Regions from separate parts of the Homo sapiens genome. Here all the other regions are linked to region 5. Evidence: fine-mapped expression QTL. A gene starts in region 5. Each other region holds a variant in brackets. All regions are shown on one strand. Distances are from middle to middle.

The links. PIP is the estimated chance that this variant, and not a neighbour inherited with it, causes the effect.
Region 1: its variant is fine-mapped to the expression of DGAT1 in whole blood (TOPMed, PIP above 0.99). The same link has a PIP of 0.9 or more in blood mononuclear cells.
Region 2: its variant is fine-mapped to the expression of DGAT1 in whole blood (TOPMed, PIP above 0.99).
Region 3: its variant is fine-mapped to the expression of DGAT1 in whole blood (TOPMed, PIP above 0.99).
Region 4: its variant is fine-mapped to the expression of DGAT1 in whole blood (TOPMed, PIP above 0.99).
Region 6: its variant is fine-mapped to the expression of DGAT1 in whole blood (TOPMed, PIP above 0.99).
Region 7: its variant is fine-mapped to the expression of DGAT1 in whole blood (INTERVAL, PIP above 0.99).

The regions. Positions count from the first base shown.
Region 1 is chr8:144,346,053-144,350,114 of GRCh38, reverse strand. No RefSeq gene overlaps it. Among named protein-coding and RNA genes, the nearest start is that of CATSPERQ, 6.8 kb to the left of the region's middle. The variant G/A (reference allele first, on the strand shown) is at 2,355.
Region 2 is chr8:144,293,798-144,297,859 of GRCh38, reverse strand. The region is part of intron 1 of HSF1 (heat shock transcription factor 1); the gene reads right to left. Among named protein-coding and RNA genes, the nearest start is that of HSF1, 4.2 kb to the right of the region's middle. The variant A/G (reference allele first, on the strand shown) is at 1,579.
Region 3 is chr8:144,387,744-144,391,805 of GRCh38, reverse strand. ADCK5 (aarF domain containing kinase 5) reads right to left here. Exons shown (of 15, transcript NM_174922.5): 4 at 1,060-1,135; 5 at 750-950; 6 at 532-672; 7 at 332-445; 8 at 95-226; 9 at 1-23. Among named protein-coding and RNA genes, the nearest start is that of MIR939, 4.5 kb to the left of the region's middle. RefSeq lists an enhancer at 2,856-3,357. The variant G/T (reference allele first, on the strand shown) is at 2,154.
Region 4 is chr8:144,302,589-144,306,650 of GRCh38, reverse strand. The region is part of intron 1 of HSF1 (heat shock transcription factor 1); the gene reads right to left. Among named protein-coding and RNA genes, the nearest start is that of MIR6848, 13 kb to the left of the region's middle. The variant C/G (reference allele first, on the strand shown) is at 1,643.
Region 5 is chr8:144,325,196-144,329,257 of GRCh38, reverse strand. DGAT1 (diacylglycerol O-acyltransferase 1) reads left to right here and starts at 2,406. Exons shown (of 17, transcript NM_012079.6): 1 at 2,406-2,821. The coding sequence starts at 2,622. RefSeq lists silencers at 1,980-2,699, 2,710-2,779.
Region 6 is chr8:144,281,585-144,285,646 of GRCh38, reverse strand. All of the region lies in intron 2 of BOP1 (BOP1 ribosomal biogenesis factor), which reads left to right. Among named protein-coding and RNA genes, the nearest start is that of BOP1, 7.8 kb to the left of the region's middle. The variant T/G (reference allele first, on the strand shown) is at 1,763.
Region 7 is chr8:144,258,639-144,262,700 of GRCh38, reverse strand. It overlaps MROH1 (maestro heat like repeat family member 1), which reads right to left. Exons shown (of 44, transcript NM_032450.3): 36 at 3,787-3,924; 37 at 3,347-3,461; 38 at 2,644-2,790; 39 at 2,327-2,515; 40 at 1,869-2,024; 41 at 1,660-1,794; 42 at 1,485-1,587; 43 at 1,352-1,417; 44 at 775-1,046. The coding sequence ends at 961. BOP1 (BOP1 ribosomal biogenesis factor) reads left to right here. Exons shown (of 16, transcript NM_015201.5): 14 at 29-113; 15 at 198-305; 16 at 384-656. The coding sequence ends at 537. MIR7112 (microRNA 7112) reads left to right here; the gene lies at 1-28. Among named protein-coding and RNA genes, the nearest start is that of MIR7112, 2.1 kb to the left of the region's middle. The variant G/T (reference allele first, on the strand shown) is at 2,286.

The sequences.
Region 1 (4,062 bases), 21 kb before region 5:
TGCCCTACTAGTCCTGCATGGCTTCTAATGGACTCTATTTATGTGAAAGAGACAAATTTCCAGTTTAAGCCACTGTAATTTACATTTGTTGTTGTTGTTGAGATGGAGTTTCGCTCTTTTGCCTAGGCTGGAGTGCAGTGGTATGATCTCTGCTCACTGCAACCTCTGCCTTCCTGTTCCAAGTGATTCTCCTGCCTTAGCGTCCCAAATAGCTGGGATTACAGGTGCCCGCCACCATGCCTGGCTAATTTTTGTATTTTCAGTAGAGACAGAGTTTCACCATGCTGGCCAGGCTGGTCTCAAACGCCTGACCTCGTGATCTGCCTGCCTCGGCCTCCTAAAGTGCTGGGATGACAGGTGTGAGCCACCGCACCCGGCCTATTTGATCCACCTGCCTTGGCCTCCTAAGGTGCTAGGATTGCAGGCATGAGCCACCGCACCCGGCCTATTTGATCCACCTGCCTTGGCCTCCTGACGTGCTGGGATTGCAGGCATGAGCCACCGCACCCGGCCTATTTGATCCACCTGCCTTGGCCTCCTGAAGTGCTGGGATTGCAGGCATGAGCCACCGCACCCGGCCTATTTGATCCACCTGCCTTGGCCTCCTGAAGTGCTGGGATTGCAGGCATGAGCCACCGTGCCCGGCCTATTTGATCCACCTGCCTTGGCCTCCTAAAGTGCTAGGATTACAGGCATGAGCCACCGCGCCCGGCCTATTTGGAGTTTTCTAACAGTTGCTGGCAAGTGTGATTCTAACTAATAAGATTATTAGGCTGAACGTTGTGGCTTGCACCTGTGATGCTAGCACTTTGGGAGGCTAAAGCAGGTGGACTGCTTGAACTCCTGTTCAAGACCAGTCTGGGTAACATAGTGAACCTTGTCTCTACAGAAAATACAAAAATTAGCCAGATGCGGTTCTGCACACCTGTAGTCTCAACTGCTTGGGAGGCTGGGATGAGGCAAGAGAATTGCTTAAGCCCAGGAGTTTGAGACCAGGCTAGACAGCATAGTGAGACCCCATCTCTTAAAAAAAAAAATGGTTGGCCGGGTGCAGTGGCTCACGCCTGTAATCCCAGCACTTTGGGAGGCCAAGGCGGGCGGATCACAAGGTCAGGAGATCCTGGCTAACACGGTGAAACCCCGTCTCTACTAAAAATACAAAAAAAAATTAGCCGGGCGTGGTGGTGGGCACCTGTAGTCCCAGCTACTTGGGAGGCTTAGGCAGGAGAATGGCGTGAACCCAGGAGGCGGAGCTTGTGGTGAGCCAAGATGGCGCCACTGCACTCCAACCTGGGCGACAGAGTGAGACTCTGTCTCAAAAAAAAAAAAAAAGGTTATTAGCTTTGAAGGTGGAGGGGATTAGCAGGTTTTAAGTCAAGAAGACGAGGTGTGAAATAGTCTTCCCAGGGAGCAGGAGAGTAACTGGATAGGGAAAGTATAGTAAGATTGTCAGGCAGTGTGGGGTGCTCAGTTGAGATGCGTGTCACACATGTGAAGGGTGAGTGGATGTGGTTGTTTTTCTAGGGAAAAGGTTTGCTGCTTAGATGCAGGTGTGGAGTAGGCAGTTAGTTGGGTCAAACAAGGGTAGGTGGCCGGGCCTGGTGGCTCACGCCTATAATCCCAGCACTTTGGGGGATCGAGGTGGGCGGATCACCAGAGCTCAGGAGTTCGAGACCAGCTTGGCCAACATGGTGAAACCCCATCTCTACTAAAAATACAAAAATTAGCTGGGCGAGGTGGTGGGCTCCTGTAATCCCAGCCACTCAGGAGGCTGAGGCAGTAGAATCGCTTGAACCCAGGAGGTGGAGGTTGCAGTGAGCCCAGATCACGCCACTGCACTCCAGCCTTGGCAACAAGAGCGAAACTCTGTCTCAAGAAAAGAAAAGAAAAGAAAAAAGGGCTAGGTGTGGTGGCTCACGCCTATAATCCCAGCAGTTTGGGAGGCCGAGGCAGGTGGATCACAAGGTCGGGAGTTCGAGACCAACCTGGCCAACATGGCAAAATCCCGTCTCTACTAAAAATAGAAAATTAGCCGGGCATGGTGGCAGTTGCCTGTAATCACAGCTACTCAGGAGGCTGAGGGAGGAGAATCGCTTGAACCCGGAAGGCAGAGGTTGCAGTGAGCCGAGATTACACCACTGCACTCCAGCCTGGGAGACAGAGCGAGACTCCGTCTCAAAAAAAAAAAAAAAAAGAAAAGAAAAGAAAAATAGTAACTTGACAGTGGAAGAATCTGGCAGATGCCACGTTAACCAGGTGACTGAGGTCAGCCTCACCAGTGATGTCACAGTGACGCCACATGAGCCCTGCGGTGATGTAATGAGAAGCCTCCCCACACCCCAAACCCTCATCAC[G/A]AGAGCACATCAGACAAACCCCAACTGAGGGACATTTTACCAAAGACTCATTCAATCTATAAAATTGAGCAGTGCTCCTCAAAACTGTCAAGATCATGAAAAACAGGGAAAGACTGATAAATTGTCACAGACCACAGACTAAAGAGACGTGATAGCTAAATGCAAAGTCGTATCTTGAATTGATTTCTGTAACAGATAGAGGATGTAGATGGAAAAACTAGTGAAATCCAAATAAAGCCTGGAGTTAGCAGTAATGTATCAAGGTTGGTTTCTTTTTTTTTCTTTTTTTTTTTTTTGCAACGGAGTCTTACTGTGTCACTGAGACTGGAGTGCAGTGGTGCTGTGTCAGCTCATTGCAACCTCCGTCTCCTGAGTTCAAGCAATTCTGCCTCAGCCTCCCGAGTAGCTGGGATTTCAGGCACCCACCACCATGCTAGTTTTTTTATATTTTTAGCAGAGATGGGGTTTCACCATGTTGTCCAGTCTGGTCGCAAACTCCTGACCTCAGGGGATCCACCCGCCTCGGCCTCCCAAAGTGCTGGGATGACAGGCGTGAGCCACCACGCCCGGCCCAATGTTGGTGTCTTAACTGTGACAAAGGAACCATAGGCATGGAAGACAGGCCGGGCTCAGTGGCTCACAACTGTAATCCCAGCACTTTGACAGGACAAGGCAGGAGGCTCCCTTGAGCCCAGGAGTTCAAGCCAGCCTGGGCAACATGGTGATACCTCGTCTCTACAAAAAAAAAAAATTTTTTTTTTTGAGACGGAGTCTCAATCTGTTACCCAGGCTGGTGGGCGCTGGGTGTGATCCCAGTTCACTACAATCTCCACCTCCTGGGTTCAAGTGATTCTCCTGCCTCAGTCTCCCCAGTAGCTGGGATTACAGGCATGCATTACCAGGCTGGGCTAATTTTTGTATTTTTTTTTTTTTTTTTTTTTTTTTTAGTAGAGACAGAGTTTCACCATGTTGCCCAGGCTGGTCTTGAACTCCTGACCTCAAGTGATCTGCCTGCCTCGGCCTCCCAATGTGCTGGGATTACAGGCGTGAGCCACCATGCCCAGCCAACTTTTTTAAATTAGCTGGATACAGTGACATGCCCCTGTGGCTGAGGTGGCAGGGTCACTTGAACCCAAGAGGTCAAGGCTGCAGTGAGCTGTGATTGTACCACTGCACTCCAGCCTGGACAACAGGATGAGACCCTGTTTTTTTTTTTTTGAGATGGAGTCCCACTCTATCGCCCAGGCTGGAGTGCAGTGGCGCGATCTCGGCTCACTGCAAGCTCCACCTTCCAGGTTCACGCCATTCTCCTGCCTCAGCCTCCCGAGTAGCTGGGACTACAGGCACCCACCACCACGCCCAGCTAATTTTTTTTGTATTTTTAGTAGAGACGGGGTTTCACCATGTCAGCCAGGATGGTCTTGATCTCCTGACCTTGTGATCCACCTGCCTTGGCTTCCCAAAGTGCTGGGATTCCGGGCGTGAGCCACCAAGCCCAGCCTTTTTGTTTTTGTTTTTTTTTGAGATGGAGGTTCTCTCTTGTTGCCCAGGCTGGAGTGTGATGGTGTGATCTTAGCTCACTGCAACCTCCGCCTCCTGAGTTCATGCATTTCTCCTGCCTCAGCCTCCTGAGTAGCTGGGATTACAGTACAGGCATGAGCTACCACGCCTGGCTAATTCTATATTTTTAGTAGAGACGAGGTTTCAC
Region 2 (4,062 bases), 31 kb after region 5:
CTCCCTGGCCCAAAACGTGAACAGTGCCGTATTCTACAAGGTGGCCCCACAGCCCAGGCCACAAGCCTCTTGTTCCAGCCTCCTGCCAAGTCAAAGCTGTATCTGCTGACCGGTGATCTGGGCTCCTGGGCTCGGCTGGCCGGCTGTTCCCTCTCCGGGTCCCGGGAGTATAGGCTTTAGGAGCAAAGGGAGCGCGTGTGTGAGTAGCTGTGGCCCACGTGTGGGGAGCAGGGACCACCGGAGTCAGGGCATGGAAGCAGTGAGGCAGGCAGGAAGCGCGAGCAGGTGCAGACAAAGTGGCTCACTTTGTGGCCCCGTTCCCTGGTCTGGTTCTGTCCACATCTGAGCCACCCGCACCTTTCTCATAAACACTCTTCTTGTTTCCGCTCTGGAGGAGCTTCCAGCGTGTTCTCGCCACACAAGGACCAAGAGCAGCACAATCGCCCTCATCTCTCATCACATCTCGTCACTGGCTGCCGTGCACAAGTGTGGTGGCTACTGCTGCTCACCATGGCCCACAGGGTCACAGGGAGGAGGCTGAGGCAGCAGCAGCCCTTGCTGCCAGGTGCCTTGAGACATTTGGGACCACCTCCTTTCCTTAGACAGCCTCCCCTCCACCTGCCAGACCTTGAGGAGACCCTGGAGCCAACAGCCCTCAATATACCCGATGGGAGCTGCTTGCTTCCTCTGGGAAGGCACTGTGAGCCCCACCGACCCCTCTCCAGCTCGCCCTGCACACAGGCTGACTCCTCCAAAACTGAGAGACTTTCAGGGCCAGGCTGTCCATCCCTGGTCCCTCAATAAAGGACTGAGCAAACACTAGCCTGTGGAGTTGGGTGGGCATGGGGCACCGGAGGCATCTGCCTCCCCCCAGGAGGCCACTGCAGCTCAGCCCTTCTGTGCCCTGGGCCCCTCCTCACCGCACCCCCCCCACCACACCATCCGGGGCAGAGGAAACACAGGAGGCTACAGCACAGAGCCTTTTTAATTTTTTCTGTGCTATGCACAGAAGCTGTATGAGGACAGATGTGTGCCTTCTTTTTTTTTTTTTTTGAGATGGAGTCCCGCTCTGTCACCCAGGCTGGAGTGCAATGGCGCGATCTCAGCTCACTGCAAGCCCCGCCTCCTGGGTTCACGCCGTTCTCCTGCCTCAGCCTCGCAAGTAGCTGGGACTACAGGCACCCACCACCACGTCCAGCTAGTTTTTTGTATTTTTTAATATAGACGGGGTTTCACCATGTTAGCCAGGATGGTCTCAATCTCCTGACCTCCTGATCTCGTGATCCGCCCACCTCAGCCTCCCAAAGTGCTGGGATTACAGGCGTGAGCCACCACGACCAGCCCCAGCTGTGTGCCTTCTTATGGCCACACCAGGAGGCACTATGGTCCGGGCACACATCAGGCCCTCCAGACCCTGCAGCACTTCTCACAGCTGCTGCTGTGGGGCCTCCAGCATCTTGGGCCAAATACCAGATCTTCCAGGGTGGGGCCAGTGGGCCTGCTGGGTCTTGGCGGCTCTCAGAACCAGGGAAGCAGGGGTGGCCCTGCCTGCCGTGGGAGCTCCGGACACGATCTGTG[A/G]CCAGGGTCTGAGTGACTGAGCGTGGCCAGGTCGGCTCTGCTTCTGCAACTCCTCGTGTGCTTATGAGTGGACGCCCTGCCCTGCCTTACTTCAGGGACCCCTCAGGCCCTGCCCCCTGCCTCACTGCAGGGACCACTCTGCTCCCAATTGTCCACCCAGAGACCCTCCACAGCGGCCACCTGACCACTGGCTTTCAATGGAACTCTCTCCCGCGATAGGCCGAGGGCCTTGGTGACCTCCAGCTCACTCAGTCTCAGGGAGCCCCAGGGTTTCAGCACATCCTTCTAGAGTCTTTCCAGCTGCACCCATGAGGCTGGGGCCAGGTGAAGACAGAGAAGCATCCAGGAGCCCACATCTAAGGAGGCCCCCACTCCCAGCGCCATCCGAATGCAGGTAGGTCTTAAAAAGGAATGCCTCAGGGCCAGGCGCGGTGGCTCAAGCCTGTAATCCCAGCACTTCGGGAGGCTGAGATGGGAGGATGGCTTGAGCCCGTGAGTTCCAGACTAGCTTGGGCAATACGGCGAGACCCTGTCTCTACTAAAACCTTAAAAAGAAAAAAAAAAAAAAGCCAGGTCTGGTGGTGCAAGCCTGTAGTCCCAGTGACTCAGCTGAGGTGACTGGATCACTTGAGCCTGGGAGGCAGAGGCTGCAGCGAGCTGCAATCATAGCCCTGCACTCCAGCCTGGGCAACAGAGCGAGACCTTATCTAAAAAACAAAAAGTGCTTCCTTAAATTTTGCACCCAGGTGCCCCCTCTGGCCTCACCCTGATCCTGAGGCCTCCGTCTACCTGGGTTCGTTCTAACCTGCGTGACCATCATTCTAGCATTTGTCTGGCACAGGTCATGTGGCTGTGCCTTGTTCTCAGGCTCCTCAGCCAGCTGGGTGGCTCCTGGGGCTGTAATCTCACCATCTCAGATGTCGAGATTACTTTTCATACTTCCTTATCTTGTTAATAAAGATGGGACAAAATCATAGCTTGTAAAAAACTGGGATGATGGTGAACCCAGTTCTGAGGCTTCACTTTCTGCTTTTGTTTGGTTCTCCATGCTGTCAAATTCTCTGAAGAGGCTGTTGCCCTCCTGAGTCAGCTGCAGCCCAGCAAGGCCCTAGAAGAGCCTCTGCTGGTGGACAGAGGAGCTGCTGCATGCAGACGAGGAAGCTGGGCTGAGGGCCGGCACCAGGGCACGGGGCAGGGAGGCTGCGGGTCCCGGGTCTCATGGGTCTCAGTTCTATGGAGGTGCCTGTCAGTCCAGGTATTCAGTCCCCCAACCCCGTCTTTGGGTCTCAGTGGTACTGGATCCAGGTGTACCTTTGGGAGAAGCTGTTGAGAAGCTGGCTGAGGGAGGACCACCCACGTGCACGCCCATGCTCTTATGTGGATCCCCGGGATCATAACCTTGTGGCTGACACATTTCCTCTCCAAGGCTGTGCTGTCCTCCACGACTTGCTGGGTCCCCTCAAGGCCCTTGCCTGTGTGGGTGGGGTGCTCATGGGAATGAGGGTCTTGGGAGGGGGGGGTGGGAAATCAAACAACACAGGGATGGGGTAGCTGCCACAGTCCCCACCAATGGGGTCTCCTGGGCAGTGACCCGGCATTCTGCCTCCAGTGGCTGCAGTGGGAGTCCTGATCTCAGGCCAGGGAGGGGACGTGCAATGGTGGTCCAGACCTGGTCCCATTCCTGGCCAGGCTCAGTAAAGTTACTGGCCAGTTTCTGGGCCTCGGTCTCCCCCAGGTTATTCAGCCTTGAGAGTTAGTCACCATGCCTGTGATTCTGCCTCATCTTCTTGTGTCAAATAGGGAGGGTTTTTCTTGGCAGAATGGTGGTAAGACTCTGAGCCAGAAGGAGACTCTCCCAGAGAAGGCAGCAGAGAGCAAGAGCACCAGGGCCTTCTCAAGGCCTCCGAGAGCCAGCTGGGCCTGGGCAGTAGATTTGTGGGAGGGTGCCCTGTTGGGACTCTGCTGACAGGGAGTCCTCAGGGCTTGTGTGAGTGCTCTCAAAGTCACAGGATGGGATGATCACCTCCTTTCTCCAGGCCAGGCAGCCAGCGCCGGAAAGCTCTGCAGCCCCCTGCGCGGCCTGGAGAAGGGCTTCCTTCCAGTTTTAAGTCAGTGTTTCTGTCTCATTGCCATGCTCGCCCCCAGTGCTACGTCCTGCACCAACCATTGCCACTTCATACTGACCAGGTGGAACCAAACACTCACATTCCAGTTGGCTCCCCATCCCTCCCCAGGGAGAACAGATCCACAGGTGGTGCACCTGTGAGTGGAGTGGAGGCTGGCCACGGGCCTCATCACACCTGCCTTCCTTGCTCAAAAGCCCTGCCCAGAACATGCCTCGGTCCCAAAAAAGGGTACACTGGGCCCTAACCCACATGCCTCATAATCTTTAAGCAGAAACAGCAAGCAGATTACGGGACAGGACAGATCACGCTAGTAGGATTAAGCTTAGAATATCCCAGATAATCGCGGATGCCCCTCCCC
Region 3 (4,062 bases), 63 kb before region 5:
CAGAAGTCGGCAGTGAGCACGCGCTGGGGAGAGCAAGAGGCTGGGCTCAGCAGGCCCAGCGCTGTGCCCACCCCAAGGGCCTGGCCCAGCCCACCTTGCTGGACTTGTCCCAGTGCACGCGGGGCACCACGACGTAGGGGAAGTGCGCCAGCTCCCGCGCACAGCGCTCTGCGTTGCGGCCCTCATTCTCGAAGTCCAGCTCCTGGGCCAGGGTCCCCTTCAGGTCCTGGGGGCCAGATGGCGGTTGAAGACCAGCTCTGCCTACCAGCTGCTCCTACCAGCTCTGCCTACGTGTTTGCTCCTGCTGGCCGGGGAAGGGGTGGGGCTGTACCTGGAGGACCCAGCTGAAGCCAAAGCTGGGGTGCATGACCTCAACGAGCCGCAGCAGGAGCTCCAGGGTGTGGATGTCCCCATCAAAGCGGTCCCGCAGGTCGATGTACTGCACCTGCACTGGGCGAGGGTGTGGTGAGAACTTGGGGCCCCACTGTGCCCCGCCCCAGCCCACTGCTGAACAAGGCAGCCCCCATATACCTTCACAGCCACGCTGGTGCCATCGTGCAGCTTGGCTCTGTGCACCTGTGCCAGGCTGGCGGCAGCAATTGGCTGGTAGTCAAACTCCTGGAAGAGCTCGTGGGGGAGGGCCTGGAAGTCCTCAAGGAACAACTCATCCACCTGGAAGGACAGGTGCTCAGAGCAGCCTGGGGCCACTGCTGGAGGCCCCACCTCCCTCGGCCTGAGCGCACACTCACCTCCTGGAAGCCCCGCTTGAGGGCCCTGTCCTCTAGCACGCGCAGGGTCCGGGTATACTCGGGGGGAAGCAGGTGGTTGAAGGAGCACAGCCCCTGGCCCAGCTTCACGTAGAGGCCCCCGTTGCTGATGGCCCCTGCCACCAGGGCATCAGCCGCCCGCTGGTGACACGCAGACATCACCTCCAAGTAGCCTGGGCTGTTCTGACCACAGGCATGGGGAGAACACATGGGGACAGGTGGCTGCCTCCTCAGTCCCACCCAGCCCACCACCTCATGCCCACCACTGTGTGCCCAGGGCACCAGGACAAACCTCTTCCACCCCTCGAAGGACAACATTGGTGCACCACCAGTAGTCCAGGGAGATCTGCAGGCCGACCTTCAGAGACCTGCGGGCAGAGGTGGCCTCAGTCTCCAGCGGGGCAGGCTCGGGGCCCCGGTGCTTGGTCCTCTTGTCAGAGCCCTCATGGTCTAGCCTCACCCCGGCCAGCCCTTCATGTCCCAAGGGTGAGGCCAAGCCAGGGTCCAGCCTACAGCCGCGTAGGCCTGTGTGAGCACAAGGGGTGCTGCTGAGCTCGTGGGGTGTCCTGTGGCCCTGCAGGTCAGTCTCAGCTCAAGATCAGTAGAACGGGGCCAGGTGTGGTGGCTCATGTCAATTATCCCATCACATTGGGAGGCTGTGCTGGGAGGATCACTTGAGCTCAGGAGTTCGAGACTGGCCTGGGCAACATGTTGAAACCCTGTCTCTACCAAAAATGCAAAAAAATTAGGCAGGCACGGTGGTGCACACCTGTGGTCCCAGCTCCTCAGGAAGCTGAGGCAGGAGGATCGTTTGAGCCTAGGAGGTGGAGACTGCAGTAAGCTGAGATTGCACCACTGCACCCCAGCCTGGGCAACAGAGCGAGACTCCGTCCAAAAAAGATCTGCAGAGCTGGGCACAGTGGCTCACGCCTGTAATCCCAGCACTTTGGGAGGCCGAGGTGAGTGGATCACCAGAGGTCAGGAGTTCAAGACCAGCCTGGCCAACATGGTGAAACCCCATTTCTACTTAAAATACAAAAAAATTAGCCGGGTGTGGTGGTGCACACCTGTAATCCCAGCTACTCGGGAGACTGAGGCAGGAGAATTGCTTGAACCCGAGAGGCAGAGGTTGCAGTGAGCCAAGATCGCGCCATTGCACTCCAGCCTGGGCAACAAGAGCGAAACTCGGTTTCAAAAAAAAAAAAAAGAGGCTGGGCTTGGTAGCTCACACCTATGATCCCAGCACTTTGGGAGGCCGAGGCGGGCAGATCACAAAGTCAAGAGATTGAGGCCATCCTGACCAACATGGTGAAACCTAGTCTCTACTAAAAATACAAAAATTAGCTGGGCATGGTGGTGCGTGCCTGTAGTGCCAGCTACTCAGGA[G/T]GCTGAGGCAGGAGAATCACTTGAAGTCAGGAGGCGGGTTTCGGTGAGCTAAAATTGCGCCACTGCACTCCAGCCTGGCGACAGAGCGAGACTCCGTCTCAAAAAACAAAAAAAGATCTGCAGAATGGGCAGCCTGTGTCCATGCCACCCTCACTCCCTGCCACCCTCAAGGGTGCCCAGGTGAGATGGGGTAGGGGACAGTATGGACGGTGGCATCCTCTGGAGAGATGGGGTTCCAAGGCTGTCTGTGAAGGTAAAGGATGGCAGCAAGGGGGCAGGGCTGAGGCAGCAGAGGTCACAGGAGGGTCAAGGTCACCTGCAGCCTGAGGTCCACTAGGAAGAGAGGAGGACACCAGGAGGGTGGGTCTCCAAGGCCTGGGGAGGCAAGGTCTGCAGGGAAGAGAGCCCAGTTAAGGCAGGAAGTGGGGGACATCCTGGGTATCTGTTGAGCAGGTACTGGGCTCCTGGGGGAGATTTAGGCAAGAGGATGGGGTAGAGGGGTGTCCCCAGGCCTGGCCCCAGTTAGGAGGATATCAGGGTGGGAGCCCTGGGAGAACTCTGGGGACCAGCTGGGCAGCCCTGGAATGAGGCGCCAGGCAGCGGGCAGACCACACACAGGTGCACAGGGAGGGGCTGAGGTCAGAGTGGCTTCTCCAAGGCTGGCCATGGCCAGAGGCCTGTCCCTGCGTTCTGTGAAGCTCACGTACCTGCCTGGGGACAGGGCCCACAGTCATTCCTGAAGCGCAGCTCTGGCGCTCAGGTGGACTCTGTGTCCCCCATCAACCCAGGGCGACCCCCCGGCCATTCAGGCCCCACTCTGGCCCCCGTAGAGCATCTGGAGTGCGTGCTTGGGTTAGGCCAGGGTTTCGGTTTCTTTTTTTTTTTTTTTGGAGACGGAGTCTCGCTCTGTCGCCCAGGCTGGAGTGTGGTGGCGATCTTGGCTCACTGCAGGCTCCGCCTCCCAGGTTCACGCCGTTCTCCTGCCTCAGCCTCCAGAGTAGCTGGGACTACAGGCGCCCAACACCACGCCCGGCTAATTTTTTTGTATTTTTAGTAGAGATGGGGTTTCACCGTGTTGGCCAGGATGGTCTCGATCTCCCGACCTCGTGATCCGCCCACCTTGGCCTCCCAAAGTGCTGGGATTACAGGCGTGAGCCACCGTGCCCGGCTCTAACTTTTCTACTATTAAAATTTGTTATAGTAAACACAACACTTTTGTAACAAAACTTAAAGATGTGAAAAAGTCCCACAGACTTGTGCTTGGGGGAGAAGGAATTTAATTTTTTTTTTTTTTTTGAGATGGAATCTCGCTCTGTCGCCCAGACTGGAGTGCAGTGGCACAGTCTAGGCTCACTGCAACCTCCGCCTCCCAGGTTCAAGCAATTCTCCCGCCTCAGCCTCCCGAGGAGCTGGGACTACAGGTGCCCACCACATGCCCAGCTAATTTTTCTATCTTTAGTAGAGATGGGGTTTCTCCACGTTGGTCAGGCTGGTCTCGAACTCCTGACCTCGTGATCCGCCCTCCTCGGCCTCCCAAAGCATTTTCACATTGCATTTCACATTGCCTCACAGAGCATTTTCAACATTGCTGTATGTTTGAAGTTTTTCACAAAATGTTGGAGGCCGGGTGTGGTGGCTCACACCTATAATCCCAGCACTTTGGGAGGCCAAGGCGGGCGGATCCCCTGAGGTCAGGAGTTCAAGACCAGTCTGACCAACACAGAGAAACCCGCCTCTACTAAAAAATACAAAATTAGCTGGGTGTGGTGGCGTGTGCCTGTAATCCCCAGCTACTAAGGAGGCTGAGGCAGGAGAATCGCTTGAATCCAGGAGGTGGAGGTTGCAGTGAGCGGAGATCCCACCATTGCACTCCAGCCTGGGCAACAAGAGTGAAACTCTGTCTCAAAAA
Region 4 (4,062 bases), 23 kb after region 5:
TGGTTCACGCCTGCGGTCCCAGCACTTTGGGAAGCCGAGGCGGGTGGGTTGCTCAAGCTCAGGAGTTGGAGACTGGCCTGGGCAACATGGCAAAACCCCGTCTCTAGAAGAAATACAAAAATTAAGTGGGCGTGGTGGCGCACACCTATCATCCCAGCTACTCAGGAGGCTGAGGAGGGAGGATCCCTTGAGCTCCGGAGGTGAAGGCTGCAGTGAGCTGTGATTGAACTACTGCGCTCCAGCCTGGGTAACAGACTCAAAAACAAACAAACAAACAAACAAACAAAAAACTCTAGTTAAAAAAAAAAATAGAGATATGCAAAGAAACAAGAAGCTAGGACCCATACCCCATACACGGGAAAAAAAAAAAAAGGCAATCAATAGAAACTGTCCCCAAAGAAGCCAAAACATTGGACACTGGACTTACGAGGCAAAGATTTTAAGTCAATCATTTCAAATATGTTCAAACAACTAAAGGAAACCACATCTGAAGAACTAAAGTATGAGAATGACATCTTATCAGAGAGTATCAATAAAGAGATAAAAATTGTAAAGAAGCCCGAAATCAAAATTATGGAGCTGAAGAGTTTAATAACTCAGATTAAAAGTCAACCAGAGGGGCCGGGCGCGGTGGCTCACGCCTGTAATCCCAGCAGTTTGGGAGGCCAAGGCAGGCGGATCACCTGAGGTCAGGAGTTGGAGACCAACCTGACCAACATGGAGAAACCCCGTCTCTACTAAAAATACAAAATTAGCCAGGTGTGGTGGCTCATGCCTGTAATCCCGGCTACTCAGGAGGCTGAGGCAGGAGAATTGTTTGAACCCGGGAGGCAGAGGTTGCAGTGAGCCGAGATCGCGCCATTGCACTCCAGCCTGGGCTACAGAGTGAGACTCCGTCTCAAAAAAAAAAAAAAAAAAAAAAAAAAATTAACCAGAGGGGCTTAAGAGCAGACCTGACTAGGAGAAGAAGGAGTCAGCAAACATGAAGATCAGTCAATTGAGGTGCTCCAGTAGGAGAAAAAAAGACAGAAGGAATAAGAAGGAGGAGCCGGCCAGGCGCAGTGGCTCACGCCTGTAATCTCAGCACTTTGGGAGGCCAAGGTGGTTGGATCACGAGGTCAAGAGATCTAGACCATCCTGGCCAACATGGTCAAACCCCATCTCTACTAAAAATACAAAAAAAATTAGTTGGGCATGGTGGCATGTGCCTGTAATCCCAGCTACTTGGGAGGCTGAGGCAAGAGAATCGCTTGAACTCTGGAGGCAGAGGTTGCAGTGAGCCGAGATTGCACCACTGCACTCCAGTCTAGTGACAGAAAGAGACTCTGTCTCAAAAAAATAAAAACAAAAACAAAAATGAGCAGAGCCTCAGAGACCTGTGAGACACCACAAAAAGTGTAACACAGCCGGGCATGGTGGCTCACACCTGTAATCCCAGCATGTTGGGAGGCTGAGCCAGGCGGATCACCTGAGGTTAGGAATTCGAGACCAGCCTGGCCAACATGGGGAAACCCCGTCTCTACTAAAAATATAAAAATTAGCCGGCACAGTGGCGGGCGCCTATAGTCCCAGCTACTCGGGAGGCTGAGGCAGGAGAATCGCTTGAACCCAGGAGGCAGAGGTTGCAGTGAGCCGAGATCAC[C/G]CCACTGCACTCCAGCCTGGGGGACAGAGTGAGACTCTGTCTCAATAAAAAAAAAAAAAAAGGATTAAAATGCCTGGTGTGGTGGCTCATGCCTGTAATCCCAACACTTTGGGAGGCTGAGGTGTGTGGATCGTTTGAGGTCAGGAGTTCCAGCCTGGCCAGCATGGTGAAACCCCGCCTCTACTAAAAATGGAAAAATTTTAGTGTCGTGGCTCATGCCTGTAATCCCAGCTACTTGGGAGGCTGAGGCAGAAGAACTGCTTGAACCCGGGAGGTAGAAGTTGTAGTGAGCACAGATCGTGCCACTGCCCTCTAGCCTGGGTGACAGAGCGAGACTCCATCTCCAAAAAAACAGAAACAAAAACAAACCAAAACAAATAAAATAAAAGCATTAAAATAAAAGACCCTGCCACTCAATCTTTGTATATTGGCCGGGTGTAGTTACTCATGCCTGTAATCCCAGCACTTTGGGAGGCCAAGGCAGGAGGATCCCTTGAGCCCAGGAGTTGGAGACCAGCCTGGGCAACATAGCGAGACCCCATCTCTACAAAACATAAAAATTCAATATCCGGCAAAGCTATGCTTTGAAAATGGAGAGATTTCCACTTCTGGAACAGCAATGTGAGGAACTTCATGGAAGTACTTCCTGTGAAACAAGCAAAGCTTAAACCACTTAAAGTCTCAAAACTGTCCTAAACGCATATAACAGATGAACACTTACGGAGTAAAATCTACTGACACCTGGTACGAACATTAAGCCTGGTGGCATCTGAGCCTCAGCCTCCTCTTTCCCTCTCACCCCAGCTCACCATGATGGGTACTACACTCAGGGAGAGGGGAGCAGGAAGATGGGGACCCTTCTCCCCTCAATTCCCAAATAAGGTTTCCTGGATCTCATGGGCTGGGCAGACCACCAGAGTTTCACATCCTCACCGACTCCAAGTTGAAGAGACTAAGATCCTGGTGCACGTGGCCAAGAAGCCAGGGGCTCCCTTCCTCCACCTTGCCCAAGCCTCAGAGAGGAGACTACCCCCGCCACAGCAGGCTGAGGACACCCAGGTCTCTGATCACCCTCCCCACAGCTCCCACCTAATTAAAGCATTTTCAAAACCACAATTTTTTTTTTTATTTTTTATATGGAGTCTCGCTGTCGCCCAGGCTGGAGTGCAGTGGTGCCATCTTGGCTCACTGCAACCTCCGCCTCCTGGGTTCAAGCAATTCTCCTGCCTCAGCTTCCTGGGTAGCTGGTATTACAGGCATGTGCCACCACGCCCGGCTTATTTTTATATTTTTAGTAGAGACAGGCTTTCACCAGGTTGGTCAGGCTGGTCTTGAACTCCTGACCATAAGTGATCCACCCACCTTGGCTTCCCAAGGTGCTGGGATTACAGGCATGAGCCACTGTGCCTGGCCTTAAAAACCACAAGTTTTAAATACAGTTCAGGCTTTCTAGGTTAAAACAGTAGGGTAGAGCACCCATGCTGGGAAAGCCAGGCCAAGAAGATCAGAGGCTGCTGTCTTACCCAGTGCCCAGAAGGGTGGTGCAGAGAAATCAGCCTGGGGAGAGAGGCCGTCCATAAGGAAAGAGCTCTGAAGCTCCCTGAGGAAACTCATTTTATTTGAAAGTTCAGCCCAAGACTGCTCTTGGGAACAACAGCTCCTCTAAGTTAAGAGAAACAAGTGAAACCGCAGGCTTGTTCACCTGCACAGGAAAAGCTACGAAGAGCCCTGCTGGGGCCAGAACAACCCTGACTGACCTCAGACACTACCACTACTCAAAAACCCCAAACACGCCTGCAACAATAATCCAAATAGCGAGACCCCCATCTATACCAAAAAAATGATAGAAGAGACGAAATCATAAAGGACCCCCAGTGGAAACTCTGGAGTAGAATAACCAAAGCAGAACTGCTGGCCGTGTGGTAAATGCTGAATTTCACATGCAACTCCCAAGCTGCTTTCCAAAGCGGATGCAGCATTTGTGTTCTCAGCAGCACGGGTGAGTTCCAGGGGCTCCGCACCCTCCTCAGCACCTGGCTGTTCTAGTCGCTGTCGCTGCGGTTTTCGTGTGCATTCCTCTGACAACGAACGATGCTGAGCACCTGTTCAAGTGCTTATTTGCTATTTGTCTATCTTTTTTTTGATGTATCTGTTCAAATCTTCTGCCTTTTTCAATGTATGTTTTTTCGAGACAGAGTCTGCTTTGTCACCCAGGCTGGAGTGCAGTGGCGCGATCTGGGCTCACTGCAACCTCTACCTCCTGGGATCAAGAGATCCTCCCACCTCAGCCTCCCGCGTAGCTGGGCCCACAGGAGCACACCACCACATCAGGCTCATTTTTTTTTGTAGAGATGGGTCTCCCTATGTTGCCCAGGCTGGTCTCGAACTCCTGAGTGGAAGCAATCTACCCGCGCTGGCCT
Region 5 (4,062 bases):
TCGGGCTTGGGCCCCCTCATTTGTTGCTGCCCCCAGCAGGGTGATCTGCATCATGCTTTCCTCGATGACCCAGCCATACACACCCTTGTCCCCAACCAACCTCACCTACCCTGACCATTCCCCTCACCCTAGATCCCAGGGTATAGGGCCTGTCTGGGCAGGGCTTCACCCACCTCTGGAGCTGCTGCCCCGCCACGCCCCCACCCCCGGTGGCAAAGCCCTTCCTTAATGGCCCGCCCACAGCCAGTGCTTTCCCCATTGGCTCCAAGCCTGGCTCTGCTCACCAGGCCCGACCCATCCTCCCTGGTGGTCCAGTCCACCCTCCCATTGTCTTTCTCCTGTGGCCACTTGCCGGCTTTGAGTTGGGACGCGACCACAGGTTGAGTCGTTGATCTCCTCTGCCTAGCATGAGGTGCTCCGTGGCCAGGTCCAGACCTCTCTGAGCTTGCTGTCAGTCCATACTCAGACAGGTCTGGGCCTACCTGGCCACAGAGTGTGTCTGCCAGCGACTGCATTCAACAAATGAATATTCTGAGAGACTGGGTAGGAGATGGGGCTGGTCCTGACCGACCAAGGCCCATGTGTGAGGGGCTCTTGGGTCCAGTGAGGGCGGCCCCACTCGGCAGGCTACACAAAGGGCATCTGCCAGGTAGCTCCAGCCTGCCTGATACCTGGTTGGCAGCAACCCACAGCGGCCTGTGGTGACAAGAATATGTCACCAGGGGGGCAACCAAGGGGGCAGCCCTGCTGGCCACTGTTGGTGGAGGTGGTGGAAGAGGACGGAGCTCAGAGGCGAGGCTGTGACCAGCCCACGGGAGAGGACCCCACCTCAGGAGGAGCACCTGTTTGCTTCCAGAGAAGTGCTGCTTGCCCCTGCTCACCCCAGAGGAATGAAGGTGTTTCTAGAGTCAGAGTCCTCAGTGAACCCTGGCATCCTGAGATCCAGGATGTTCTCACTCCATGCCCTGTGCAATATGCACACCAAGCCAAGGTGGGCCGCAACTGTGGCTGTTACAGTTGATTAGTTGCTTCATTTAACATACAAGATGTCTGGGGCAGTGGCTCATACCTGTAATCCCAGCACCTTCAGAGGCCGAGGTGGGAGGATTGCGTGAGGCCAGGAGTTCGAGACCAGCCTGGGCAGAATAGCGAGACCCCCATCTTTAGAAAAAATAACAACAGGCCAGGCGCGGTGGCTTGCGCCTATAATCCCAGCACTTTGGGAGGCCGAGGTGGGCGGATCACGAGGTCAGGAGATCGAGACCAGCCTGGCCAATATGGTGAAAGCCCGTCTCTACTAAAAACAGAAAAATTAGCTGGGCGTGGTGGCACGCGCCTGTAGTCCTGGCTACTCGGGAGGCTGAGGCAGGAGAATCGCTTGAACCCAGGAGGTGGAGGTTGCAGTGAGACGAGATCGCGCTACTGCACTCCAGCCTGGCGACAGAGTGAGACTGTCTCAAAAAAAGAAAAAAGAAAACAAAAAACAACAGGGCGGTTGCACAGGCCGTGCAAATGCACAGAAGCCTCTTGAGTCCCGGCGATCCAGCGGCCCAGACTTCTGACATCCTGGAGAGGCTGGCCCACGTTGGAAACTGGGAGGCCCTGAGAGTTGAGGGACGTGGAGCTCCTTGTGGAGAGAGTGGGTGGGCTGAGAAGACACCACCAAGGGGCCTGCGCCCTCGCCCTCGCCCTCGCCCTCCTCTCGCCGGGCTCTGCAGGCGGGGAGGTGGAGAGCCTGGGAGTCGCGTGCAAGGCAGGCGTCCCGGTGACGCAGGGCCTGGTGCATTTCTCCAGCTTGGTCTTCTGACCTGGCCCTTGTCTGACGTCCCCCTAAGGCGAAGAAAAGCAGGTTCCTGCCGGGGTAACCAGAGGGCTCGCGGAGCAGAAGCGCGCCAGGGACGTTACTGTAAGCTGCGTGCGCAGAAACCAACGCGCTGGGTGGCGGGCGACGCGAGCCGCCGCGGACACCGGCCCGGACAGCTGGACCGTGGCGCACTAGGCGCTTCCTAAATGATTGCCCGGAGTGACTCGCCGAGACCCCGTGTGTACACAAGTGGGACGAGGGGCGGGCGCACAGCGGCCAGGAAGTCGGGGCCCAGCGCACCCCTCAGCGGACCATCCCGCTCCGTGGGGCCGGACAGGACCCCGGGACCACGCGGGAGCGATGCAAGGTCCGTTCCCGCTGCGCGCACTTGCGGCCCGCAGCCCCGGCCCTGGGAGCTGCCACGGCTCCCAGGGTGCTCTGCGCCGGTGCGGCCGCGGCGACTACGACTCCCAGGGTGCTCTGCGCCGGCGCGCCCGCGGCGACTACGACTCCCAGGGTGCCCTGCGCCCCGTCAGCCTCTCCAGGCCCCGCCTCAGGTCGGCCGCGGACTACAAATGGACGAGAGAGGCGGCCGTCCATTAGTTAGCGGCTCCGGAGCAACGCAGCCGTTGTCCTTGAGGCCGACGGGCCCGACGCGGGCGGGTTGAACGCGCTGGTGAGGCGGTCACCCGGGCTACGGCGGCCGGCAGGGGGCAGTGGCGGCCGTTGTCTAGGGCCCGGAGGTGGGGCCGCGCGCCTCGGGCGCTACGAACCCGGCGGGCCCACGCTTGGCTGCGGCCGGGTGCGGGCTGAGGCCATGGGCGACCGCGGCAGCTCCCGGCGCCGGAGGACAGGGTCGCGGCCCTCGAGCCACGGCGGCGGCGGGCCTGCGGCGGCGGAAGAGGAGGTGCGGGACGCCGCTGCGGGCCCCGACGTGGGAGCCGCGGGGGACGCGCCAGCCCCGGCCCCCAACAAGGACGGAGACGCCGGCGTGGGCAGCGGCCACTGGGAGCTGAGGTAGCGGAGCGCCTGACCCCCTAACCTCTGACCCAAGGGCCCCGCGACTTTCCGGGGTTGGCCGAAGCGCGAGCTCCGAGTCCGAGAACATGGGCCCTGGGCTAAGCGGGGATCGGTGTGCCCTATGGGCCCTGTGGGGAAACTGAGGCTTGGGGAGAGTCACCTGACAAGGTCACTGGGTAGGGGCTCTGGAGCTGGCCTTGGCCAGGCAGAGGGGAGCCGGCAGGTGTCCCGCATCCAGATCCTCTTGGGTCTGTGCATCCTCAGGGGCTCCTGAGGAGCTTTTCGAGGGGCGGGCTGGTGGGGGCCCGGCCCTGGACAGTGTCCCCTTATATGGAAGGAGTCAGATAAGATCTGGGCAGTTTGTGGTGATAGGTTCCTTCTTGGTGCTATGAGCGGTGCCTTGCGGGTAGGAAAGGCTCCCAGAGGAGGGCTGGCCTGCCAGGGAGGGGGCCAGAGGAGCCCAGGCCTGTCCGAGGACAGGGGAATCAGCAGCTGCCCCGGACAAGGGGCAGTGTTAGAGGCGTTCTTGTCCTTGCAGACCCTTCTGAGAGTGGCTGCGTGGCCCATTCATTGCTCCAGTGGTTAGGCTGGCCTGGAGCCCTGCCGATGTTGCCAGAGCCAGCGTCTGTTGTAGGGACAGAGAGTTGGGTTCTGTGTTGGGACTTCCATCCTCCAGGTGGGGAGTGGGGTATGGGGGTGGTGGACACACCTGCAGGCGTGTGCCCTGCTCAGCTGGATGACTGACAGAGAGGGGTGGAGGGAGAGAACCATGGCCGATGGGAAGGACTTGGCCAGCCTGGGCATTGGCTTCCTCCACCAAGCTGGCCTTGAGCAATCCCCTTGCCACCCTCCATCCCCCCTTTATGGCCTTTACCCTGGCCCAGGGGCCCTCAGGGCTTTGTTTTAGAGAGCAGCTGAGGGCCTAGAGGTTATCAAGGCAGAAGTGGGCTGATTTTGGACATGTAGTTGGCAATGATTTGCTCTCTCAGTGAGCAAGAACAGAGCTTTCCTTCACGGGGCACCATGGGGAGGGGGTTGGGGGAGGGCAGGCACTGTCGTGGCCCTCAGGGTGCTCAGTTCATCTGGGAGATAAGATAACCTCAGCGAGAGTCAGGCATGGAGCAACATGGACAAAGGTCGGGCACGGAGGCCTTGAAGGGGCCGTGGGGAGGAGGGTGGCCCTCCTGAGAGGGGTGCTTGCCTGCTGTGGGCCTGGGGTGCTGGTGAGGGAGGCTGGC
Region 6 (4,062 bases), 44 kb after region 5:
GCAGCTTCTCCTGCTGCTAAGTGTCCTTGCCCTGCAGTGGGCGCACCTGGGATTCTGTGGTCCTGGCCACGGCCACTCGTGTGGTCTTGCAGATGGTTCATGGGCCTCGGTGGGTTACTTGGTAAGTGAGGGTAATGTCTGCCTGGCAGCCCCTGAAGGACGAGATGATGTTTTTGCTAATTTCTCTTCTGCCACGTGCTTCTGCCTGTCCCCCCACTCCCTCCTGTCGCTGTTTCCTCCACAGTGGTTGGCAAGACGTGGCCCCTGTGGCCTCTGCCTCGTGCATCTGAAGGACATCCCAGCCACAGCATCACATCAGACTGGAACAGTGGCGGGATGGGGCTGGGCATCAGGCAGCATGCATGTGTCATGTCACGGACACCTCAGGGACACACGAAGTCAGGCAGGGCGAGGGCCTCACTCCCCAGGCCGCCTAGCCCTTGGTGGGTATACCCGGCCCCGATGGTGCTGTGAAGAAGGGGCTGTGTGACTGGCATGGGAGGGAGCTGCGGCTTTTGTTCATCTCTGCCATCCTGGCAGCGATGTGGCTGATGGGTCACCTTCAGAGAGCCTCCTCCATAAATCTGATTCCAAGTGTGTGCCCCAAACCAACCCAGACCGGCCCGGGGCGTCCTGCGGAGAGCCCCACAGTGGGAGGCCCTTGTAGCGGGGAGCCCGGTGACTGCTGGGGGTCAGCTGCTGGCGGCCCCTGTGGAGACCTGGCGACCTGCCAAGGGCTCCGGACCTGCCTGGGTGGACCCAGGGTGGGCGTGCTTCTGGCTGCAGGGCCGGGCCACAGGCTTCCCTCTGGCTTTCTGCCCTCAGGCCTTTAGCATTGACATGCACACGACCCTGCCTCCTTTCTAAGGACTGTGTAGAATTACGTGGCATTCAGTGAGCAGCTGCACGTGGTGTTCTAGGGCACCTTTGGATGCTCAGGTGCTCCTGAGGGGTGTGCCAGGGAACGAGTCTCCTACCCTTCCCTCCTGGCTCCTGTTGCTGCATCCAGGCAACTACTGTTTCCAGTGCTGAAGTCTCTTTCCAGGATGTTCTAGACATATCCAAACTCGCACAGAGTTTTTGAATGGTGGTTTCTTAAGAGAAGGGGCAGCCGTGCGCTGTCTCAGGATGGTTCTGTCAGGGAGGCCATGGCTCTGGTTTGTACAGTGCTTGGTGCCCGTAGAGTGCCTGGCAGCTCGGCCTCAACAGCTCCAGTGGGTGGGCAGTTGCAGGCTTTTGCTCTTACAGTTGACCTGACAGTAACATGCTGTTTCTCACATGTGCACACCATTCTTGGGGAAAATTCCAAGAGAATTTCTAGGTCAAAGGATAAATGCTTTTTTTTGTTTGAGACAGGGTCTCACTCTGTCACTCAGGCTGGAGGGCAGTGGTGCGATGTTGGCTCACCAAAATCTCAACTTCCTGGGCTCAAGGGATCCTCCTACCTCAGCCTCCCTGGTAGCTGGGACTACAGGGTCCCCGCCACCATGCCTGGCTAGTTTTGTTTTGTTTTGTTTTGTTTTGTTTTTTGAGACAGAGTCTCGCTCTGTCGCCCAGGCTGGAGTACGGTGGTGCAATCTCGGCTCACTGCAACCTCCACCTCCTGGGTTCAAGTGATTCTCCCGCCTCAGCCTCCTGAGTAGCCGGGATTACAGGCGCCCGTCATCACGCCCGGCTAATGTCTGTATTTTTAGGAGAGACGGGTTTCACCATGTTGGCTGAGCTGGTCTCGAACTCCTGACCTCAGGTAATCCACCTGTCT[T/G]GGCCTCCTGAAGTGCTGGGATGACAGGCGTGAGCCGCCGCACCTGGCCATCAATGCATTTAATTGTGAAGGTGCTTGGAGCGTCCCTCCGCTAGGCGGTGATGCCATGCACTACTGCAGCCGCCCCTCAGCTGCTTTCCCACCACCAGCCTCCCTCATGGTGTTGCTGCTTCATCTTTTCCTCTTGTTTAGTGATGTTTTTCTTTCATTAAGAATGAGGCTCGCACAGCTGGGCTTAACTGAAAAAATAAAAATAAAAAGAATGAGTCACAGGCTGGGCCCAGTGGCTCACACCTGTAATCCCAGCACTTTGGGAGGCCAAGGCAGGTGGATCTCTTGAGCCCAGGAGTTCAAGACCAGCCTGTGCCATATAATGAGACCCCATTTTTACAGAAAATTTAAAAAATGAGCCAGGCATGGCGGTGCGTGCCCGTGGTCCCAGTCCCGGAAGCCCTTCTGTCTCTTCCCTGTGGCGGCATCATCCATGCACTTAGCTGGCTGGAAACCCTCATGGCTGTTGCCCAAGGGCAGGACAGCTAGCTGGTTCTTGTCATTTTGGTCTGAGCTCCCTGGGCCAGGAGCCCTTTGCTGTTTTCTCTCTGTTTGTTTGTTTTGTTATCTGGCACCACAACAAACTGCCCCAAACCATGGAGCCTTTCTTTTTTTTTTTTTTTTTTTTTTTTGAGATGGAGTTTTTTTGCTCTTATCGCCCAGGCTGGAGTGCAGTGGCACAATCTCGGCTCACTGCAACTTCTGCCTCCTGGGTTCAAGCGATTCTCGTGCCTCAACCTCCTGAGTAGCTGGGATTACAGATGCCAGCCACCACGCTCGGGTAATTTTTTTTTTTTTTGTATTTTTAGTAGAGAGGGAGTGTCACCATGTTGGCCAGGCTGGTCTTGAACTCCTGACCTCAGGTAATCCACCTGCCTTGGCCTCCCAAAGTGCTGGGATTACAGGCGTGAGCCACCGCACCTGGCCACCATAGTGCCTTTCAACAACGAGCATTTGCTGTCTGTGTTTCTGGGGTCAGGAGTCCTGGTGTTTTGTGAGGTGCACTCAAGGAGCAGGGTCTGGCTGTGCCCTTTGCAGCTCCTCCCCTGACTGTTGGCATGAGGAGCTCAGGAGTGAAGGTGAAGAAGGGTACTCTGTGTCTGGGGGGTGGTCAGAGGATAGGGATGAGGACAGGGACAGGGCCCAAGAAGATGGGGTGGGTGCTGTACCTCCCCCTTCCTTCCCTGGGGTATCTGTGGGCCACGGCAGGGCCCACAGCTGTTGCTAGTAGCCTCCTTGGGGCCAGTGGGTTTGATTTATTTTTGTGTTTGTGTGGTTTGAGGGCAGGCATCCCTTCCCCACCCTTTGCGTCCCTGCTACAGTGACCCCTCTTTCTGGGTCCACCTGCTCTGGCACGAGCTTGGTGGGCCAGCCTCACCCCAGGGCCCACCCCATCTCCAGCCTCCCTGCCTTGGGCCTGGCAGTCCTGCCTCTTAATTGCGTTCTGTGCCACCTGATGACCCACGAGTTCTGTCTCCTGGCCTGGTTCCTACTCCCTGGGACTTTCTGCAGCCCCTGCCCTTCCAGCTGTTGACTGTGTCTGCGAGCCATCCCACTGGAGGGGCGCCCTGGGCTGTGTGCTCCCTGCCCTGCAGCACCCCTGACACGGGTGCTCCCAGCCCTCCACTGACCAGCCAGGGAGGAAGCTGCCTCCTGCCGGCCTGTGCCTCGCTTCCTGTCCCCTCTCCAGCAGCACACGGCAGCGCGGGCCGCGGGCTCACCGGAGCGAGGACTGGTTGCAGGGCCTTCTCTTTATCGCTGGTGTCTAGTGGATCTGTGGGGTCCGTGCGCTCAGAGCTGTTTTTTCCTTTCTGTGCTCATTTAGATTCATTTTTTTCCCAGCTTTGCTTGGTTTTGTCTTTTCATTTATGTGAGTTTTTCTTTTTATTATTTTGTGCAGAAGTTTCTGTTTTTATCAGTTAATCTGCTTGTCACAGTCAAGAATGTGAGAAAAGACTGGATGCGGTGAGCCAAACCTGTAATCCCAGCACTTTGGGAGGCCAAGGTGGGCGGATCACTTGAGGAGTTCGAGACCAGCCCGGCCAACATGGTGAAACCTCATGTGAATTGCTTGAGCCTGGGAGGCGGAAGTTAGAGTAAGCTGAGATCATGCCACTGCCTCCATCCTGGGTGACAGAGTGAGTGGGACTCTGTCTTGAAAGAAAAAAGCACTAGTAAGAGAAGGCCTAAGACCTAGTATTAAAGTAAGAGAAGGCCTAAGACCTGGTATTAAAGTGAGAGAAGGCCAA
Region 7 (4,062 bases), 67 kb after region 5:
ACACCTGCATCACAGCCTTTGGCCCTAGGTGACAACGTCATCTGTGGGAGCTACGATAGCAAGCTGGTGTGGTTTGACCTGGATCTTTCCACCAAGCCATACAGGATGCTGAGGTGAGGAAAGCTGGGGGTGGAGGCGGCCAGCAGAGCCCCTCCCTTCAGCCCGAGCCTGCCTTCAACCTGGTTCCCTCCCCCCAGACACCACAAGAAGGCTCTGCGGGCTGTGGCCTTCCACCCGCGGTACCCACTCTTTGCGTCAGGCTCGGACGACGGCAGTGTCATCGTCTGCCATGGCATGGTGTACAAGTGAGTGCTGACCCTGCCTGGCCCCCTCCCCAGGGCAGTGGTGTCTGGCCGTGCCCTGAGCCCTCCTCGTCCCCACAGTGACCTTCTGCAGAACCCCTTGCTGGTGCCCGTCAAGGTGCTGAAGGGACACGTGCTGACCCGAGATCTGGGAGTGCTGGACGTCATCTTCCACCCCACCCAGCCGTGGGTCTTCTCCTCGGGGGCAGACGGGACTGTCCGCCTCTTCACCTAGCTGTTCTGCCTGCCTGGGGCTGGGGTGGTCGTGCTGAAGTCAACAGAGCCTTTACCCTGTGCTGCCTGGTGCTCCCACCTTCTTGAATTGGGGTTGCCAACAAAGCCGCCCCCACCACAGCGCCGAGCCTTCCCCTCACTCAATTTTGCAAAAACAGTGGGGACAACACAGCCAGTCCAGGGCACCCTCTGGCCCATCCCCTAAGAGGCTCAGCATCGCACCCTGTCAGTCACTCGCTGGGAGCAGATGAGTTTATTGGGCACATCCCTCACTGAAGGGCTTGGGTTTGGTCCCCAGCAGTGCCTGTTCTGGGGCCAGGCCCCTCCAGTCGTGTGCCCAGGCTGTGGTCCTCAGGAGGCCCTGTCTTGGAGCTCAGGCACAGGTCTGGGTGCATACTCCTCGCTGGGGGTGCTGGCCGGAGCCTTAGGCGAGCTTCACCAGGCGGCCCAGGGCCTCAGCAGCCCTCGTCCGCACCTCGGGGGCCGGGTCCTTCAGCAGGATCTGGAGCGCTGGGGGTAGAGGAGGGGGGCTGCCTGCGGGCTGTGACCTCGGCATGCCCATGCCTGCGCGTGGGCCACGCTCTCCTGACAGCCTCTGCTGGGAGGCTCAGGAGCCAACGGAAAGATCGTTTTTCCTTTTTTAGTGTTTTTTAAGCTCTTTTGGAACAGTTAAGAAGTTTCCGTGAATTACTAGAGACGATGAGGTCACCAGTGACAGGGAAAAAGTCCTGAAATCCAGGAAAATCACTTAGTCCCTGCGGGTGCCTACAGGGTCAGCAGGGCCCAGCGGAGGGGCCCCGTGGAGGGGTGCTCACCCGCAATGAGCTGGTCCAGGTCCACCTGCGGCTGCTGCCTGGGCTCCGAGTGCAGCACCAGGAACCCTGTGAAGTGGGGGCATCAGGCGGGGCTGCCGGGCGGCGTGGGGGTGGGGCAGGGGGTGGTGCTTACCGGTGAACAGGGGTGCAGCAGCTCGGACGTTCTCCCAGCTGCTCTTGAAGTAGAACAGGCAGGTGGTCAGGAGACGGCCCAGCAGGTCTGGGAAATGGTGCATCTGGGGAGAGGCCTGGTCAGTGCCGCCTGGCCCCGCCCCACCCACCACGCCCCGCCTGGCCCCACCCCTCACCAGGTGCTTGCAGGTGGTGTTGAGGAACTCCCCGAAGTGCAGGGCTCGGCCCTCCTGCAGGTGTTTCTGGAAAGCAGCTGAGAGCTCCTCACATGCCAGATTGGGGCCACACATGCGCAGGGCAAACCTGCAGGCCTAAGGGATGCGGCACTGGGGCCAAGTCCAGTTGAGGCCACCCACCCCATCCCACTCACCCCCTGGCTACTCACGCTGGCCACGGTGGCCTGAGGGTCCTGCAGGTGCAGCAGCAGGGGCGCCAGCCCGCCCACCACCTGGTCCAGGAAGACGTCCTCACAGTCTCCGTGGCAGACCTTGTTAAGGTGCCCAAAGAGGCGGATAGATGCCGTCCGGAACTCCATCTTCTCCTGGGAAGGACATGCAGCATACGTCTCCTCACAGGCTGTGCCCCTGCAGGCCTGCCTGCCTAGCCCCCTGCCATTGATGGGTGCCCTTGCCTGACCCGGGCCAGGAAACACCCCGACGGGTGGGGGCCTTACGGGTGGGGGCTGCCAGGCCCAGCAAAGCAGCAGCCCTGCAGGTCCGCGCTCTCCACGGTCACCTAGCCGAGGTGGGAGACAGGGAGGAGGGTGGGGCTGGGGCTAAAGCTCAGAGTAAGAGGCAGGAAG[G/T]GCTGGGGCCCTCTTCCCTCCCCCTGCCCCAACCAGCCTACACTGTCGAAGAAAGGCCGGATGCGGATGGCCACGTGCAGCAGCCCTGAGCGCAGGTCCCAGGACTCCACCAGGTGCACCAGCCTCGCAAGGCCCAGCATGGCCTCCAGGGCCACTGGGCTGTGAGGGTTGTCCCCGTCGTCCAGCCCGCCAATCATGGCTGTGAGGAGCTGGGGGCCGTGGGTTCGCACCTGAGGATACCTTACACTCAGCCTGGGTCCCAGAGTCACCGTCTGCTACCCCACAAGACAGGGTGGCCTCCATGCACAGCCCCCCACCCATGCTGCCTGGGACCCAGAGGGGCTGGTGGCCACCCCACCTTGTCAGGGCAGCCGGAGGCCAGGTTGGCCAGGCCGCGGAGCACCAGCCTCCGCACGCTGGCGCATGTGTCCTTCTGGCGAGCCGCCAGGCTCTCCAGCAGCGAGTCCAAGAGCATGAGGTCGTTGGCCACGTTGCTGTTCAGCAGCTGCAGGCAGAGGTGCTGTGACTTCCCTCTCCCCGCTGACCCCAGGGCTCAACCCACCAGCCCAGGCCCAGAACACCAGAGGCTGTCCCCACGCCGGTGTGGCAGACAGAGGTGGAGCACCTACTCCCTGGGTCTCCGATCAGTGGCGACCCCTCCCTGTTGTGCCGCTGGGGCCTGCTCTGACGCCCGCTGTGCTCTGCTGCACGGCCTTGGGCAAGATTTTGGCATCTTTGGCCACGAAGGCCAAGACCACACCACCAAGGGCACCTGGGGTCCCAGGGGCCAGCCCTGTCCAGCTACAAATGTACCCAGCTGGACTTGGGGAGAGTACAGGCTGCAGGGAGCCTCGGTCCTCCTCTCACCAGGCACAGAGGGGGTGTCCCTGGGTGGGACTGAGTGAGTTCTGGCATGGGGGAGGAGGTAGCTAGCATCCACATAACCTCCCTCACAGACCACGGTCGAGGGGGCCTTTTAGGGGTAAGAAAAGGGCATCCCGTGCCTGTCCTGAGCAGGAGCCCCACCTTGGTGCCCAGCATCCGTCCCTGGAAGGGCCTACCTCGGCCAGGAAGGCGGTGGTGGTCACCCTCTGGTTCTCATACGCACTGCTGTGTGTGCATGCCAGCGTCTTCAGCACCAGGGGGAGTCGGGGCCCTGCGTGCTCAGCCATGGCCCTGGGAAAGGGGGCCGCTGAGGGTGCAGGGGCTGTTGCTGTGCTGAACCCTACCCAGGCACCTTCCACCCTGCACAGCCCTGGTCCGCTCCACCGCCAGCTGCCAGGTTCTGGGAGTTCTATGTTTCAGAGATGCCTCCCAGCTTGCCTCGCCAGGCCTCTGCAGGGGTGCCTCCCTACCCCTGCCCCAGAGAGTGAACAGGCAGGAGCCCAGGGCACCATTGGCCTGACACGCATGGGCCCCCGCCTGATCCTGTCATGTTCTGGGCTCGAGATCCGGTGGAGCCCAGCCAGTGCTGGAGCTGCAGTGGGCTGGGCCCGCTCACCTGGCCAACCTGGTGGCCCCCTCCTCATGCCCCGCCGAGGTCCTGAGCAGTTCCCAGCCTCCCTCCAGGTCCATGCGCTGTACCACATCCTCGCTGCCGCTGCGGAGTAGCATGGACCGCAGGGTGTCCACTGCAGAGCTGCAGGATTGCCAGGGTGCTCAGCTGGTAGGGCACACACGCCTACCTCCCTTCCTGATTAACTCCTCAGGTCTGCACCCAATGCGTGTTGCCCACCTGGTGGCTAGCCCTATCCCTGCCAGAGCCACTCTCCAGGAA